Linked DNA regions of Homo sapiens. The protein of the gene in region 1 interacts with the protein of each later gene in a biochemical or structural test. Each region holds a gene or a part of one and is shown in the gene's direction. Other genes may lie near its edges. The genes, in order: GPC1 and SLIT2.

Region 1 (3,903 bases):
AAGGGCTGAGACTGGGGCTGGGGACAGGGCTGCAGAGTGCAGGGCCTGCCTGGGGTGGCCGCCACTCAGCCCTTTATATCGGGGCAGGAGTCTGGGGGCCGCGGGGAGTGACCCCTGCAGGCCTTGAGGCCCCGCCAGCTGCTGCATTAGAGCCACGTACTCCTCGGCCCAGGCTGGGCCTCGCCTTGTGTCTGGGCAGAGAGTGGCAGCCACCCCCAGGGGGACAGTGTGGGGTCAGGAGGTCCTCCATGAAGTGACCTCTGATCAGAAACACGAGGACTTGGTGGAGGGAGGCGGCCCGGGCTGAGGTACTGCCCCTGTGTCCGGGCGGAGCCAGGGCGCCGGGACAGTGAGCCTGGGCAGACAGGAGGGAGGGAGCGCTGAGGCTGCAGGGCTCCATTGTGGCTGTGAGGGACGGCAGCTGCTGCTGGGGCCCTGGGGTTTGTCTCAGCGTTCCTGCTTCTCCGGCTCCTGGACACCTGCTGTGGCCTCCCAGGCTCCCGGGAGAGTCTGCCTGTCCCCAGGAGCCCCCAAGGCCATTTCCACAGGGCTGTGGGACCTCAGCTGTTGGCGTACACCTGGGTAGCAGTGGGTCAGAAGCTCCCTCTCTGTGACTTGGACATCGATGCTCAGAGCTCAGCCCTCCCCGCTGGTGTGGGGCCCGTGGGATGCGCGTGGCCCCTCTGGGACTCTCCTTCCTCCTGCCCAGCTGGACCCGGGGAGCGAGCCCCTGCACCCTGAGTCAGGAGCCTTCCTGAGCCACTTGGTTCTGTCCCATGTGTAGGGACCCGGCTCACCTCCTCCACTCTATCCTGGGCCTCAGTTTCTCCCCAGCGCCGCTGAGCCCTGGCTCCCGCCCCAGCGTGCCACCCAGCCCTGCCCCTTCCCCTCTCCTGCTAATACCCTTGCCCATCACACCATCCTCCTGGCCTGGGGACATCCTGCCCGCCTGCTTCCTCCTGGCTCTTAGGGGGTTGGTGTCGCTGCCCTGCTCTGGGGCCTGTCCCGTGTCAGTGCCCTGCCGCCGCCCTCCCTCTGCTGCCCTCTGGAAGCCTCCAGCCTTCCTGTTCAACTCTCCTATCTTTGACCTGAAAACACAGACACCCTTTGGGGACATTTGTATTAAAAATGACCCACTATGTGATGTGCCCAAGGCCCACCTGTGCCCCTACCCCAGGGAGTCTTGTCCAACCCCCACCTCCTATGTCCTCCCCTCCCACCCCTGCCCATGGCAGCTGCTGTCCCCTCCCAGCCTCCGGGGCAGCTGAGGGCCCCTGGGTCTTTGTCTGCAGTGCTGGTGGGAACCAGTGGGAGGCGGTAGGAGGGGAGCCTGGCTGGACCTCTGGTTGCTGTGTTCAGGGATTTGGAGCCCTGTGTCCGCCCCCCCACCAGCCTTCAGGAGCAGCTGAATGGGTTCTGGCAGGAGGTAGAGCTGGGGACTGCACCTGGATTTGGCCCATGGCCCTCTAGGTGTGTCTGGGCTAATGCATGAACCACAAGCCGCCCCTTTCCGGGACAGGCCAGGGCGTTCCAGGCGCCAGGACCCAAGGTGGACACTGGACAGCTGTGTGGCCCGTCCACCCTCCCCACAGCGGCCTGGGAGCTCTCTGTAGCCCTGCCAGCCCTGAAGCCCCAGGCCTTGCCAGGGGTCAGCGTGGGGGCTGATCCAGAGATCTCAGGCTTGACGGCCCCCGTGCCTCAAAGGAGAGCCTCTGCCCTGCTACCCTGGAGCACCTTGTGGTGGGCCATCGAGCCCCCGGTACCTGTGGGGCAAAGCCGGCCACAGCCCTAGGGACGCTCTGAGCAGTTACAGACCTGGAAGTCCCACTTCCAAATGGGATGGGGAAGTCCAGGGTCCCATCTAGGCCCGGGGTACGGGGGCTTTTCCCTAAAGCCCCTGCAGCACATGTGGAGGTCTGAGGGTGAGCCTGTGCCTCCACACCCCCTGCCCAGCAGGGGAGATGTCTGGGGTTCTAGGCTGCAGGAGGCCCCCCAGAGCCCTCAGACAGGCCCGGGGTGCTCACAGCTGAAGCTTCTAAATCGCAGAAGCTGAGAGAAGACAAGAAGCCTAGGAGAGCAGCCGAGACAGGGTGGCGGGAGGGGCAGCAGCCCTGGAGACTCGCAGGGCAGGCGGCTGGGGCCACGGGGAGCACAAGTGGGGACCAGTGGAGAGAAGGAGCGGCTGGCAGGGGGGCACAGACCGGCCCTGCCCCTCTTACCCCAGTGAGTCCCCATCTCCACCAGCAGCCCCTCCCTGGGTGTTCTCAGGGGGTCACTGAGTCACAGAGCATCTGTTCTGCCCAGGGCTCAGCTCAGAAACTGCCACTGGAGCCCCAGTCAGAGGCCCTGAGACCCGAGAGGACCCCCTGCCACCTGGGCCCCTGCTCCCCAGGCCAGGGGGTGAGGTCTCGGGGCGCCCCATGGATGCCCACAGGGCCCACAGCCGCTGCAGTGTGGCGTCCGACTCCGAGGTCCTCAGAGTGTATCCTCAGAGCTGAGTCTCCCGGGCTGAGTCCCCTGCTCTGGTCCAGCTGCCACGGCGGGGGAAACATGGTCCCGATCACGCCCCCTCCCTGTGCGCAGACCACTTCCAGCACCTGCTGAACGACTCGGAGCGGACGCTGCAGGCCACCTTCCCCGGCGCCTTCGGAGAGCTGTACACGCAGAACGCGAGGGCCTTCCGGGACCTGTACTCAGAGCTGCGCCTGTACTACCGCGGTGCCAACCTGCACCTGGAGGAGACGCTGGCCGAGTTCTGGGCCCGCCTGCTCGAGCGCCTCTTCAAGCAGCTGCACCCCCAGCTGCTGCTGCCTGATGACTACCTGGACTGCCTGGGCAAGCAGGCCGAGGCGCTGCGGCCCTTCGGGGAGGCCCCGAGAGAGCTGCGCCTGCGGGCCACCCGTGCCTTCGTGGCTGCTCGCTCCTTTGTGCAGGGCCTGGGCGTGGCCAGCGACGTGGTCCGGAAAGTGGCTCAGGTGCGCACAGCCACCCAGGGCTCTCAGAAACCCCTCCAGACCCCCATGCTCTGCCCAAGGGACTTCCTCTTCCCCCTACTTTAACCCTGTGCCCCTGGGCCTCTGGGCCAGCCTCTGACCTCAGCCCCACAGCCTCAGTCCCTCCTGCATTGGCTGCTGCCCATGGCCTGCTAACAGCGTACCCACAGATGTGAGCCTTGCTCTGGGCAGGCGGCTCTGGGCTGGCCCATCCCTGCCCAGAACCATCATGGGCCAGGATGGGAAGGGCCAGGGGCTGGGGCTGGACGCTGAGCCAGGCTGTGGAGTGAAAGTGCAGAGGAGACAGAAGAGAACAACATGCGTGGGGGCCGGGCAGGGTGGGGCCCCAGAGCCTCGCAGGCCAGGGGGATGCCTTGGTCCCTTGCGGGGCACGTGTCAGACCCAGCTAAGCTGGGACATAGGGAGGGCGTCAGCCTCAGACCCACATGCCCTGGGTGGGAACTGCCCCCACCTCCAGGCTCCTGGGCAAGTCATGCCTTGGTTTCCTCAGCGGCATGCGGGTGAGGATATTCTTGCCTCCCTGTGACCCTCGAGATCATTAAAATGAGGGCCGTCTGGGCTGGCAGGCCCTGCGAGTCAGGCAGCGACCACCACGAGCTGGGGCAGAGCAGAGGCCTCCCCTGACTTCCCTCCAGAGCCCCCTACCCTGGGGCTTCGTTAGGGGCTGGCCGGGGCCAGGCACCCCCAGGGCCTCGGGGCCTGGCTTAGGGTCCCTTGCTCCCCAGGTCCCCCTGGGCCCGGAGTGCTCGAGAGCTGTCATGAAGCTGGTCTACTGTGCTCACTGCCTGGGAGTCCCCGGCGCCAGGCCCTGCCCTGACTATTGCCGAAATGTGCTCAAGGGCTGCCTTGCCAACCAGGCCGACCTGGACGCCGAGTGGAGGAACCTCCT
Region 2 (3,903 bases), on another chromosome or scaffold:
TAAAATTCCCCTTATCAACTAAAAAGTTAATAACGCAAAAAATAGTAAGATATGCCTCTCAAGAATTAATTACAGTCTTTCTTTTTTCTGAATGAAATCCACTGAACATAGCTTCTTATTTAAATTGGCTTCAAATTTTAAAAAGATGTTTCTGTAGGCATGTTGCTATGTATGTTAGTTTCTCCTTGGTTTTACACAAAACAGAAAGTGATCAGAGATAGAATGAAACTTGAACTTATGTCTGTGAATTTCACTTATGCAACAATATCAATAATATTATTTATAAATATTTGGAATGCAGGATATGTTCTTGGAATTAAAATATGGAACAACAATTCTATGTGGTGCACAAAGTTGAACACAAACACCTCTTGTTGCTGACAAGATATTAAAGTTGTGAAATTAAATAAATTAATGTATCAGCAACCATATTTAACCACATAATTTACTGGTACACACTAAGGAAAATTCACTGAGGGTTGGGGGAGCTCCTTCCTCAATGACAGGTACTTGTTCTTTATCTCATTTTCCTTACAAGAAAATGTGACAAGGGCTTCTTTTTTCTCCTCCTCAAGGAAGTTACATAACAGACCTTTAAGCTAAAATCTAGAAGGACAAATGAGTTAATAAATGTCAAATGTTTTTGAAGGTTTTAAAAGAATAGAGCAATATAAATCTGTGGCATTAAAATGAGTAATCCTAAGAGTTCCAATTCAGTTATCAGATGGTACCCTGCCTTTGGGCGTGTCCTCGAAAAGGCTTACGTTTTCCAAGGCAGGCAAAATGAGGTAAGTAGGGGTAGCCATTATGAAAGGACATCTTAGAAAATGTTAACCAGGAAAAACGTTAATGAGGATATTGCAGAGATTTTAGGTTGAGCATACTCTTGAGTTAAAGAAATCGGTTACTTATGAGGAAACCTATTATGTGGCAGGCATAGATGCTGGAAATACAAAGAGTTGGACAGGTCTTGCTTTCAAGGAAGCTTCTAATAATTATACAAATAACTACTACAATATGAGGCTGGTATTAGGCGGGGGCTTGCACAAATTCCAGGGAAAGCTTCTTAACGTGGAAATGGGAGGAAGAACAACAATATGATGCATATTAAATCCAAGAGAAGGAGCAGAGTCATTTAGATGTCATTTCAAACTTACAGTGACATTGGCTCTTGCTGGGGGGGAAAGGGGGGCGAGAGAGGCAGCCGTTGCCAGACATACGTCACACTAAAGAGACAAGATGAAACAAGGAAATTCTCTTTCAAAACATAGCGGGGAAAAAAATATCCAGAACTGCCCTGAAATAAAGAAAACCTTCTGGTATAATGTGCGTTGCTAGGGATTTATTTTTTCCCCTCCTTTCTCTCATAAGAGAGTAAAAAATCACACAGATACGTTCAAGCCCTTAAGAGTTTTGTGAGCCTATTGAATATCCAAGACATCAACTGACCACGGTGTGGTTCAGTGTGTGTCTACAAAGGAAGGGTTAAACGGAAGGGGGTGGCTTGGAGATAGAAAGGCAAGCAAGAAGGTTGGAAAATGCTGTTTTCCAACTTGCAAAAACTGAACTTTTCAGCTCCCCAAAATACACGTGTGTGTCTGTAAGCGCAGGCAGATCTATTTCGGTAGGATTTTTCTTAAATTTAAATCATAATTTCTCTGTTTCTGTCTCTCTGTCTCTTGCTGCGCTGCAAAGAGTGAGCAGCCCCCTTAAGGATCGCGTGGCAAAAGCTGCAGGAGAGGCACTGGCAGGGCTGTTTATTTATGAGCCGCGTTCAAAGCCGACCTCTTCCCATTCTCCCACTGCAAACGACTATCTCCGAGCCCAGGTCACCTCTGGGGCCAAGGAGTTGGGGGCTGGGGCTCGGGTGGCTCCTTCTTCGGGCCAAGTTTGCCCGCGCGTGGGAGCGAGGGGGCGAGCCAGGGCGCACGGGAACGCGCGCCGCCAGCCGCCGCCTCCGCCCAGCGCTGGCAGCCCCGGCCTCACCTCTCCCCTCTCCCCAGCGAGGTGCGGGCTCCCAGAGCGGAGCCAGGGGGCGGGCCTGGGCCTCGAGGGGCGGGGTCAGGGGGCGGAGGCTCGGGCGGCTATATAAGGCCCGCGCCGGCTCAACTTCGGACTTGGTGTTATTTATTTGGGAAGCGCCCGGACGGCGGAGCTTGGCGGCGGCGGTGGTGGTGGCTGCCGCAGACTGTGGTTAAAAAAAAGAAGGCGGCGGCGGCGGCGGCGGCGGAGGCGGAGGCAGCTGCGAGGCATGGGAGCGCCGAAGCGCCCAGGCGCAGGCCGAAGCTGCCGCGCTTTCTGGGCACGGCGGGAGTGCTGAGCAGAAAGGGGAGCGCCGGGGGCCCGCAGCCGGCTCCGGAGGCGCGGGCCGGGTTTTTGTTTGGCTACGCTGAGCGCCAGTCAGCCCCAGCGAACAACTCCAGTTACGACAACAACCCACCTTCCTTCCAGACAAGCGAGACTTGGGCTGCTGCGTCCGTCCTATTGTTTAGACACTTGCCAGGGGCTCCGGAGTCGGCAGAGCCACCGAGTCCCCGCTCTGAGTCGTCGCCCTCCCTCTCCCCGACCTCGCTCCCTGGAGCGGGAGGCCAGGAAAGCAGCGGGAGAGGGGAAGGGGCTAGAAGGAGAAGGACTACCCGGGACTGCGGCCGCCGCGTCAGGTGCAGCGCCAGGAGCCGGGCGGCGTCGCCACGCCGGCAGGGGTACCGCCACTGTGGCCTTGGGGGACGGAATTCAAAGCCTGGGAAAAGTTGCTGCACTTTGAGAAGGACGAACCACTAGTGGGAGACCGCCGGGGGCCGGCCGTGGCTCTGCGCCCTCCGGAACCCGGCTCTTGTTTCTTCTACCTTTGCCATCAGGTGTCTGCCGCGGAGCTGCGGCTTATCTGGGAGACGAGCGGGGTTGACACGCGCGCACACACTACTGCCATTCAGCTGCCGCCTGGCTCTGCCTGGAGTAGTGGATCCCACCCGCCCACCTGCCACCGAGCCATTCTCCAGTACGCCCCAGCAGGACGCTGACACCTCCAACCTTGGCCTTTGCCTTTCCACTCCTTCCGGTCTGCCTGGTTTTTAAGTCCGCCCCCAGTCAGTCCCCACTCAGTCTTCGCAGCAGCTCTCATCCTCCACTTGGCCTCTTGGAGTTCCTCGCCGGAGTGCTGACTAGTGGATATTTCTGCCCGGCTGCGGCGGCCCGACTGCCCTTTTGTCTTTTCTGCGTGACCTCGGGGCAGGTCCTGGTGCAGAGCGTCGCCAAGGACGCCGAGCGGGAGGCGGGATTGCCCAGACATCCTTCAGCGAAGTGCATGTGTGTTTGTAAACCATCGTTGGCTGTCGGGAGACCGCGAGGACCGGTCCAGGCTGCGGCGGAGTCGAGGGCGAGGGAGAGGCCGCGTGAGTGAGCAGAGTCCAGAGCCGTGCGCCCCCAGAACTGCGCGTCCGCCCCGTGCACCCCCGCGCGCCATGCCCAGTTGCCCCGCGCGCTCTGCTACGGGCCCGCTGGGCTTCCGCGCCTTCTAGCTTCCGGAGCCCACTTTGATCGGGGCCATAATACCTATTGAGATCCCCTCTTCTGTCTTGTACCTTCGCCACTGGCATCGGATTTGCAGAAGCGTGCGTGGGATCAGAGGACCGCCCTCCCCACAACAACCGGCCCCTGCATCTTAGCAGCCGTTGGAAGCCCCAGCTCTTTTACCGCCAAGTTCATCCTTGGGAGACAGAAGACGCGTGATCTCCTCTCCGCTGCTCTTGGGGTCTCCTTGCAGCCCTGGCCAGGCGGATTCATCCTCAGGACCTAAAGTTGCCCAAGGAGCTCCTGCTCTGCCAGAGGAGGGTGGAGAGGGCGGTGGGAGGCGTGTGCCTGAGTGGGCTCTACTGCCTTGTTCCATATTATTTGGTGCACATT

Evidence for each region.
Region 2: the proteins of GPC1 (region 1) and SLIT2 form a complex in vitro, tested with the Homo sapiens proteins (one study listed by BioGRID).

Annotation. Positions count from the first base shown.
Region 1 is NC_000002.12:240,459,608-240,463,510, forward strand, and holds part of GPC1 (glypican-1 precursor), read left to right. Parts: intron 1-2,583; coding exon 2,584-2,975; intron 2,976-3,739; coding exon 3,740-3,903. UniProt on the Homo sapiens protein: Cell surface proteoglycan that bears heparan sulfate. Binds, via the heparan sulfate side chains, alpha-4 (V) collagen and participates in Schwann cell myelination.
Region 2 is NC_000004.12:20,249,790-20,253,692, forward strand, and holds the start of SLIT2 (slit homolog 2 protein isoform 1 precursor), read left to right. Parts: upstream 1-2,115; 5' UTR 2,116-3,903. UniProt on the Homo sapiens protein: Thought to act as molecular guidance cue in cellular migration, and function appears to be mediated by interaction with roundabout homolog receptors.